Regions from separate parts of the Homo sapiens genome. Here region 2 is linked to region 1. The links come from fine-mapping of genetic effects on gene expression. A gene starts in region 1. The other region holds a variant in brackets. All regions are shown on one strand. Distances are between the middles of the regions.

Region 1 (5,387 bases):
ATCACATTCAATCTAGATTTTGCCATTCTCTTTGCCATCATCTTTGGATCTATCCAATGATGATATTTAACACATTTTAACTTGCTCTTTCAGGATGTTTCATTTAAGCAAGCACTAAAGAAACTATGCTAAACATTAACATGTAGTAAAGTTAAATATTAAAATATAAGGAATTAATACTTTGAGTCTTAAAAAAGTAATGAATTTTTGTTCAAAAAGAGATACGCAGTTCATGATTAAAAATCAAGCTTCAGAAGCATAAGTCAGTTATTATAAAGTTATAATATCACAGCAGATAGTTTTTTCCAAAAGCAAAATCTGAAATTATAATGTGTAATCCTATATCATTTATGTTTGTTCTGAAAATTCTGTTCCCTTTATAAAGTATATGTTTTCAATAATGATAACCATATAATCACTTCACTATGGATGCTGTCAATTTCTATAATCAGACCTCACGCCAGTAACTGAATATTATGGAAATATTAAAAAAACATGGAGCCATGCCTATGGCTTCTTGAAAGTCATTTGAGTTGAAGAAATATGAATACAGAAATACCAGCAAGATTGTCTTCTTCTGCCAGCTTATACATGTGAATTGTCCTAGATGTTAATTTATAACCAGGGCTTCAGCTTTTTCATAAACCTACTGGGGGACTTAAGAGTAGCTGAGCTCAGAAATCCCCTTTTATTAAAAAATGTATATAACCTAAGGTGAAGAGAGTCTAGAAAATCTTTATATAAAAAATTTTTGAAAATTCACATCCATAAGTCTCTGGAAAAATCAAAGCTTTTAACCTTAGGTTAATCTATTGCATTTTAGAAAGACATTATAAACCTAATATCTGCTATCCATTCATTAGTATTTTATAACTGATCTAACTTTAATTCTAATATGTAAGTTCATTGTGTTAGAAGAAAAAAGACTAGAAACCAAAACTCAAATCCAAGTGGTCACCAGTGTTATTTCTCATAAAACAAGATAATTCTTGGGGGAGTGAGGGAATCTGGATGATTTTAGCCTATAAAGTAAGAAGAAAATACATTATTTAAATTACTTACTTTTTCTTTGTAACTAAGGTACTCCAGAAGTAAAAATATAAGTTTCTGATATACTGAGGGAGATGACTGCATTAATCCTACATTCACAGGAAAGTTTTGGATATGTAAGAAGGGGTACAAGAGGACAAAGAAAATCTTCAACTGTTAAAGAAAGATAAAGCTTTGAAGTCCTATTTGTGGAATAGTAACTTCTTTTTGCCAATCACTCACACTGAATTAACTCATTACACCTGGAAAGTCATAGCCAGTCACTGAAGGGCAATATAACACCTTGGACAAATAAGCCTTCCAAACGCAAACTCAAAATATGAGGGCAAACAAGTATTCAAGTCAAATCTACTGCTGGACACTTTGCATGGAAAGTTTGATACCCTTTCAGCTCCTATTATCCTCAGATATTCTATGGGGTACAATTTTCCTACACTATAATTGTAAGGAAATGAGGATAAAAGGCAATGCCTGGGTGGGCAGTACTGAGAAGGGTAAACTCCGTTCCCCACAGTGCTAGAAATAAACAGGAACAATACTATGATCCCAGGAGCACATCATGCATTGCCCTGACTTTCTCAGTACCCTTCTTTCCCAAATATAATGCCTACCTTCCGTGTGGACTGCAGAGACATAGGTCCAATTGTAACGTTTGACTATGTCAAGCATGGCCCTTGCCTGCAAAGTGTCAGAAGGGACAACCCTCAGGAAGTATTTGTACAAAGTTTTGTCACTCAGGTCGATGCTTGTGGCTGAATAAGCGATCTGGGGGATGTCGAAGAGCTGGAGCAGGTTCTGCACTTGAATGGCTACAGAGCTGGAGCCGGGACCGATCACTCCCGCAATGGGCTTCTTAGTCCTGCCTGGGGGGAGGGACTGGCCGTCAGGCAGACACCGGTTGATCCCATCCTTCTCATCTCGAATGGAAATCAGAGAGTCCCTAATGAACTCAATGCTCTGTTCCAGAGCCACGGAAGAGTGCCAGCAGGAGTCCCGGATCTCACTGCCCAGGGTGATGTTGGGCAGGAGGACCGGGTCCGCGTTGATCTTATCCAACGTGTGGAACATGGCCTCCACCCTCTGGATGCCATACTGCTCCCTGATCTCCCCACACTTCCTCTCGGGCACTTTCTCGGCCGGAGGCTGGTGATGGACTGAGAAGAGGGCTCCAATGATGACATCTCCGTCCATTCTGGCCACCGAGCGCTGAGACGACGCTCCTGCCAGCAACACTTTCCTGCCGGGGCTTCTGGGGAGAAGGGACACCTCCAAAAAGATCGCTGGGAAAAAAAACAAAAGGAGCCCGACCATGGTGGTGAGGACGAGGTCCACAGCCTGCCAGCCGCGTTCCCACGCTGGTCCCGCTGCAGGCTCCCGGCGCGCACCCCCAAGACGCCCAGCGCCGCCTCTCCCGGAGTGGTGCCCCTCGCCAACAATGGTCGTCCAAGGCCTTTGCCTCCTCCACCACCGCCTCCTTCCCCTTCGTCTCCTCCTCTGGGTCCTCCACGACCGCCTCTACAAGCTGGAGGCGTTTGTAAGGGAATTCGAGTCCCCGTTCTTCACCGGTAGTGCATCAAGGTAAATTGATCAAGAGTACAGTGGAAGTCGTGTTGGCAGCGGTGAGCTAGATGCTGCTGACAAAAGACAGAGAAAAATCACAACCTTGTCATCAGAGGACCTGTGTTAAAACTCTGGGGTCTATAATGTTAACAGTTGCCTTGTCCGTTTCATTTCGGCACATCCTGATATCGGCTGCAGGAACAGCTTGGAGCGCAGCTGTGGTCACTGAGGAAGGCGGGGTGTCCTGCCCCCTCTGTCCTCACGGGTCCAGGCGGCGCAGAGCCCCGCCAACTCGCCCGCTCCTCCAACCTTAAGTCGTTTCCTGGTCCCCTAAAACCTATCATGCTTTCTAACTTGGAGGGCGGTGGGGAAGGTGAGCAGAGAGGAGGGGAGGAGCTAGGTCCTTCAACCCAAGAGAACTTTCCGGATTGGAAAAGATCAACTTTTTTTCAGAAGAAAATTTGGAAACTCATTGTAAAGGTGGAAGCGCGACTTTAAAATAAACGTAAACAAAGGATGCACCTTTTACTTTAATTTTGAGGGGTTGAAGAAGCCCTGACATAAAATCAGCTGTAAATATAAATTTGCCAGCTTGAAGAAAATCCACATTAGTTACTAAGGCAACGCCTGGTAAAGTCTCCGTATGGAGGAGTTTGGTATGTTTCCCCCGTAAGAAGTCAGGCTTGCTGTGTATGTTCAAGAAGAAGGGGTGCAGATAAGGTAACTTGTTTCCCGCGGTGGGTGGACGGGTTAGGGGGGGTCCTGCGCTTGCTTTGGGGTTTGCATAGTTGCTAGAAAGGGAACGGAGGGGAGCTTCCGGGTTGCTCTCGCCGCGGCAGCCTGAGCCCTGCCGCCTTCAGGACCCTGGACAGTGCTCGGTCCAGCCAGACATTCCCTGGCAGGGCCTGCAAGGGACGCTTTGACCAGTGAGTTGCAATTCCCTGACCCGCTTTGCTCTTTCAACCTCCCTCCTCTGAGTTCTTTACCCATACACACACACACACACACACACACACACACACACACACACACACACTCCCTTCCACTCGAGTCCCCACCGCCCCTCCGCCCTCATTCTCATCACCTTGCACCGCTTGTGCAGGTATATATCCAAACCCACCCGCTTGGGGACAGAGGCGCCAAATCTCAGCCGCCTGCGGGGCTGAAGTTGGCTCCCTCTCCCGTTCCTCCCCTGCTCCTTTTCTCAAGGTGAGAGTCGACGAAAAGGGGGCTATGGGAGCGGGCGAGGAGAGCACAGGAGGTGAGGCAGAAAAAGGAGAAAGAAAACCCAGGCACCCATTGGTCCCGACTCTTCCTGAGGATACAGGACGAAAAGAAATACATAAGCGAGAATGCGCCTGGGACCCGGAGGAAAATCTGATAGACTGGGACTTTGTCTGCCGTTGTGGGTGGGTTTCACCGGAGGAAGTGTCCGCTCACCTGAGTCTGTTTGGAGGACATGGACTTGAGACATACCTGAGTACCTGAGTCGGGGTAGACAGCGCTATGGTCCCGGGGCCAGAGGACCGTGGCCACGCTCGGCTTGCAGACGCCTCAGCTCTAATCCAGACGGTGCAAGGATGCGATCTGGGCTGTACACTAGTGCCCTCTTTCTTCAGCACTATTTTACCGCAAGGGAAAAAGAGGGGGAGGGAAGAAAAAAAAAAACAGGTCACCCAAGGCTTGTCTATTATCTCATGTATAAAAATCAGTCGTTTGATAGAGGGAGGAGGGGAGACAAACTAGGAGGAAGTGGGGAATATTAATTCCTTTACTATATGAGGGGTCGTATAGAAGCTGCCAGATACGTGAATAGTCAGACAATCTGGCCAAAGAAGTGGAGAACTGCCTAGGCTGCTTTGGGGTAGATATCTTTGTATATATATCTCAGGGACTCAAATATATTTTCTCTTTCTGCGAGTAAAGTCCCTACAGAGGGAAACAGAGTGTAAACACATGTACAGACATCTAAAGAAAGGCTCTATTAGTAGATTGCAAGGGAAATCAGGAAGAGGCTGCATAGGGTGGGAGAAGGGAAAGGACAGGCATGCCCATTATGAATTAAGGTATGCCAAATGAAGAGAGACATATTGTGGCTGCATTTTCAGGTCAAGATGTAACTAAATTGAGAATGAGAGTCAGGTCACATGAAAATACTGGAGTGACAAATACTTATCCAAATTCCTCCCAGGCGGCCATCACCTTCCCTACAGGTCTATGGTGTTGCTTCTGACTGTGTGAAAAGCGGAAGTTAAATCACATTCCTCTGGGAACATGTTGGCTGAGCAGAATGTGGCCCGGCTTTTTCAGGGGAAAAGACAAGTGACAGTGTGTCTTTCTACTCTTGTTCAAAGCTTTCTATTTGTGTCATCTGCAGAGCAGAGAGATCAGCTTACGTTGGTCCCTTATGGGTCAGCTTATAATCGCCTTGCTCAGGTCATTATTATATTATGGAATGGTGCCATGTCAGACTGGAGGGGACAAACCACATGAGGCAGTTTCAAATACTCTTCAGTGTGTTCCATGAAACTTAGGAAGGAAAACAATACCTCTAGTCAATAACAAAAGGTCTTTCTCATTCTGGTTCTGATCTTTTTTTCCCTAAGTGTCAGAGTTTTCTGGATTTTTTTTTTTTAGACAGCCCAAAGAGAATATATTTTTTTCTTTTTCCACAAATAATGCACTAAACAACGTTCACATTTTTTAGACTAAATGATCTCAATTCGGGAAGTAGCCACATGTTTACATAAGGAAAATGGGAAGAGGTAAGTTCTGAT
Region 2 (5,387 bases), 180 kb before region 1:
ATGCATAATGACAATAAATGATCAAGACCCCGACATGAGTAGAATGAAGAAAGATTGGCAGAGTCCAGAAATAAGGTTAAGTATCTATTTAGATGATATTTTTAATAGCCAGATAAAGAGGTGGAAAGGGGAACATATTTAACACTTTGTCTGTATGAATAACCAATGTTACTTGTTTAAGAATGACTTAAAATTGTGAAATGAAAGATAATTCTAAAACAATTTTTACTGCTTCATTACATACAACAAACTACATTATACACAGAAAAAAATATACATTTTTTTCAATAGAAACATCACCTGTTCACTCTAAATAAAAGTTGAAAAGATATGTAAGAATTATCAGTTTGAAAGCATGTTATGCCATTAGCCTTCTTGGGTTACCAACAAGGATCATGAAGTCGCCTGACAGAGAGGTGACCTATGTCATATGCCTGTATTATCTAAGTCGCTGTAAGCCCACAAGACTTATGTCCTTCTATTTTACTCAGCCCTCAACTGCCTGTAGGTATATACAAATGAAGTCTGATGACAGTGAATCAGGGCAACCTTTAAGAAAAAAAGAGAAGTCAGAGAAAGATGACAGGCAGCCTGAGGGTTGTTGTGTATGAAAGAGAGAAAGAGGTCTTTTGCAAGAGGGGAAAGGAGGGAAAAATCTCAGAAGCTGATTAGATAAAAATGCCTATAAATTCATGTCTATTATATATCAAAGAATGGAATGTACTAGGTGCGACTTTTACAACAACTCTTCAGGGAAAATATTACAAACCCCATTTTAGGGATAATAAAATAGGCTCAGACCAACAACTTAAAATGTAATAAATAACTAGTCACTAAGTTTAGGCAAGGATTCAAACACATGTCTGTTTGACCCCAAATATCTTCTTCCCCCTCTCATCAAAACAAATTGTCTTTCTATACTTTTAGTTGCCTATTTTAAAAGATGGGGTTTGGGTGGTGTGTGATAGTATTATGGCCAAATATCTGGGGGTGTCTCTAGCTTTTCCTGCCCATTACTCCTCTCTGCAGAAAAATAGGAATTGAAGTACTACTTAACTAGTAACTATGCAAGTAGCTAATACAGAGCTCTGATGGAGAAAATATTTCCAAACTATTCATCTGACAATGGTCCAATATCCAGCATCTATAAGAAACTTAAACAAATTTACAAGAGAAAAAACAAACAACCCCGTTAAAAAATGGGCAAAGGACATGAACAGACACTTCTCAAAAGAAGACATACATGTGGCCAACAAGCAAGAAAATAAAAGCTCTATATTACTGACCATTAAAGAAGTGCAAATCAAAACCACAATGAGTTGTTATTACAAACACTTATACACTGTTGGTGGGAGTGTAAATTAATTCAACCATTGTAGAAAGCAGTATGGTGAATTCCTCAAAGAGCTTAAAGTATACTACCATTTGACCCAGCAACCCCATTACTGGGTATATACCCACAGGAATATAAATAGTAAATCATTCTGCCATAAAGACACATGCACATGAATGTTTATTGCAGCACTATTCACAATAGCAAAGACATGGAATCAACCTAAATGCCCATCAATGACAGATTAGATAAAGAAAATGTGGTACCTATACTCCATGGAATACTATGCAGTCATTAGAAAGAATGAGATCATGTCTTTTGTGGGAACATGGATGGGGCTGGAGGCTATTTTCCTTAGCAAATTAATGCAGGAACAGAAAACCAAATACCACATGTTCTTATTTATAAGTGGGAGCTAAATGATAAGAACTAATGAACACAAAGAAAGAAACAACAGACTCTGGGGTCTACTCTAGTGGAGAGGGTGAGAGAAGAGAGAGGAGCAGAAAAGATAACTGGGTACCCAAAAGTACCCAAAAGATTGGGTACTGGGGTTAATACCTGGGTGATGAGATAATCTGTACAACAAACCCCCATGACATGTGTTTATGTAACAAACCTTCATATGTACCATCAAACCTAAAATAAAACTTAAAAAGAAAAAAAAAAACACTATTTGAAGAAACTAACAAACATCCAAGTCTGTATCTAAGATCAAGTAGATTTTAGGGGGAGAAAGAGACAGAGAGACAGAGAATACAAGAATGAGGCTGCCTCTTAATCAAGCTCCCTGAGACCCTAAGACCACTTGCCCACTCTGCTGCATAAAACCAGGAAGATAATAATAAATAGGCATAACTTTGTAATATTAAGGAATGATAACCCTGGCAACTGACAGTATCAAGATCCCAGGCCTGGGATAGCAACTCCTTCTTCCTCTCATGGGAGCATCTAGCAACAAAGTAAGGAACTAGAAGTGGGGATGATCTGGGAAGACAGGAATAAAATTGCCTTCCCTATCAAGTGTACACTGTAAACATTCTCTTCCCCCACAAGCCATTGGGCTTACCTCCTGCTTCTCTATCTGTTTCTCCTGACTACATCTTTCTGCCTTAAACTCAAAAGCAGAAAAGATTTCAAATGATACAGGTCCTACAGAAACGGTCCTGATTAGCTTTCCTAGGATATAGGAAACCATGCTGACCATGCTTGGCAGATGTCCCCACTTCTCTTTCTCTGCTACGACATACATCAATCTCTTCCTTTCTTTAATCACCTTCCACCTAGGTTTAAAGGTCCCAGAACCTATAGAGATCAAGAGAACATGATGATGCTGCCTGCTAGTGGACCTCTGCTCCCGCCTCCCTGGGAGAGCCTGCCTGTGACTCTGCACATGCCTGCAAGTTTTTGCTTGGAGCATGTGGGAAAAGGAGAACCAGGTAAATGTCCAAATATTAATCAGGACAGGGGCAGGGTAAGGCTGAACCTCAGTTTGCTTACAATGCAAAGTGCTCTCAGCTTGCCTTCAGAAAAAGTGTGTGCCCCAGAACAGGATTGAAAGTAGACAAAGGGCTGAGTCTTGCTTAAAAGGGAGAAAATAAAATTAAGTTTTAATGTGCCATTTCTAAGTATAGTTATTGAGTTTTTAAATCTGATTTCACTTACCTCCTTAGACAGAAGAATATGCTGCATTGTTATGATAACAATTCAGGTTCAGACTAACTTAA[C/T]GAAAAATAAATTTTCAAAAACTTTCCGCATAATAATTCACCAGGATCCTGAAATGTTCACCATGTTATTTCCGTTGCTTTACCCTTTCGAATATCCACTGTCAGATCATCTAGCTATTAAGAATTTGCTTCCTAAATATTCACTCATCTGAAACATACATGCTGAGTTAAATCAGTCCTCAAAAAGGAATGAGGAAAATAAATAGAAAAAGCCAGAACACCATAAAGTTTTCCATAAAATGAACATTATCTTTTAAAATAAATTTTGTATGCTATGAAAGAATATTAAACAGTAGTTCACAATAAAGAAAGAAATTAGCTTTGTGGAAAAAGGGACCATAACTCAATGACCTCCTTTGTCATTTTCTAACAAAATCTTTGAGTATTATAGATATTTTTTACTCTAAAACATGTCCTCAATTGAACCCCAAACTATCCTGAAGCCACTTTTCACATTACTTAAAAGTTCACTAATTAGAAATAGATTAAATGCAGAATATAAATGAAGTCATTGGACATTTTTGATGCATGCATTTTCATATATTCATTCAATAACAAAATATTACATAACACTGTAAAGGGGCCAACTCTACTGAAATTCAAGGACCCTATGAAACAAAGCCCATGTCCTCATAGAATGTGAGGATATATCTTAAAGCATTACATGAATTTCAAGGGCAGCCATAGAGTGGCTGAAAATAAGGCCCCTGCCTTACACATTGGGTCTGTTCCCTTAGCGCTGTTTCAGAACTCTGCGTGCACAAAAGTGCCCCTGCTGTGTTTGCCCATGAACCTGAGCATCCCAAAAGCACACAACTAAGGCTTCTAAATTGCTTTAAAGTTCAATATACTCTTCCAACCTTTTTGGCAGTATTTTATTTAGCAAACCTTATAAGAAACATTTAAATTAAATCTGAATTACTTCTGAATCATCATAAATTTCAAGAAATTTATTTAAAAATGAAGTTCTGAACATGGACATGGCATATTCTAATACCAGGCCCATCTATAAATGTGATACCTGGGCTACACCTTCTGCACCCATTTCATTGGACCCTATGAAGTTACATGAAAATGTTAACAATAGACCGTGCCCTGCAAATAATTTTAAGCACAGTTAAATGGGTCTTTTCCAAATTAAAGGGTGTAAATTAAGAAAATCATAGAAAAATAAAAATAGATTTTTCTGTGCTTATGTGTACTTTCTTTGCTAACCGTAAACGTTCAGGAAATTAGGGTAAATTGGCAAATGCTTTCATCAATAGAAACTTCTGTGCTAGAGCACTTCTGCCCATTGTCTTATTACGAATTTTTAAACAGAAGCAATATATCTGCATTTTTTTCTTTCATCGCTCTCATCTCCAAGCAGACCAAAAATAAAGGGCTTGTGAAGTTCCTGCTAATCCACCTTATAAATTAACACATGCATAAAGCTAGAGAGAAGACTGGCTGTTATCAGTTTGACAGTATCTAGTTATCACTTCTTTGAAAGTGTAGGTGCATATAATTAACACTCAATAAGAACATTATATTCAAAAATAACACAATCTACATGTGCTGAAGAACAAGTGAATTTATTCTTATAAAACGTTGGTATAGTGATTGAAATAAAATACTTCTTTTTATTTGAAAAGATTTTTGCTATCCACATACCCAAAGGATAAGGGAATTAGCAAAGGGTGACAGCAATTAATGCTCCAACATCCAACATTGTGGGAATTTACATGAGAGATAAAGTTTTTCATAATATTTTCTGGTTTTCTCTTTGCCGTGGAATTCAAATGTAGGATACGAGTTCAAGTTTCAGAGTTTCCAAAAGTTTTACAACCCTTGTTAAACAATGGTTAAGTAAGATTCCTCTATACATACTGTGCTTTAGGCATATAGTCTGATTATCTTGGGTGCCATCAAGTTCACTGAGTCACAAGTCTGGCCATGGTAGAGAAAGCTGGAGGTTCACAAAAGAAATGAGTTCTCCTCCTTTGAGCATAAAACTGTCCCTGAAATAGGACTATCTAGTCAGAGTCTACATCTCCCACAGCCCCTTGAGCCTAGGTGCACAATTAGGCTAAGTTCTAGTTGATGAATCTAAGAGAAAGAGATGTGCCTCACTTTGCATGCACTCCTACATTCACTTTTCTATGTCTGCTAGCTGGAAACAGAGGACTCTAATGCCCTGGTGGAGGACAGAGCAACAACATGAAAGAAGATGAACCCCCGACAGAGGGAATAGCGGCACAAATGGCAGTAACCCCTTCATCAGACTGTTACATGACCAGGAAATAAACTCCTCTGCATTAAACCACTAACATTCAGGGATTTATTTA

What was found. PIP is the estimated chance that this variant, and not a neighbour inherited with it, causes the effect.
Region 2: its variant is the best candidate, but not a certain one, in a credible set for the expression of GRM1 in left ventricle (GTEx, PIP 0.86).

Annotation. Positions count from the first base shown.
Region 1 is chr6:146,026,492-146,031,878 of GRCh38, reverse strand. GRM1 (glutamate metabotropic receptor 1) reads right to left here and starts at 2,817. Exons shown (of 8, transcript NM_001278064.2): 1 at 1,662-2,817. The coding sequence starts at 2,361. RefSeq lists enhancers at 1,998-2,498, 2,499-2,999.
Region 2 is chr6:146,203,236-146,208,622 of GRCh38, reverse strand. All of the region lies in intron 2 of GRM1 (glutamate metabotropic receptor 1), which reads right to left. Among named protein-coding and RNA genes, the nearest start is that of GRM1, 180 kb to the right of the region's middle. The variant C/T (reference allele first, on the strand shown) is at 3,061.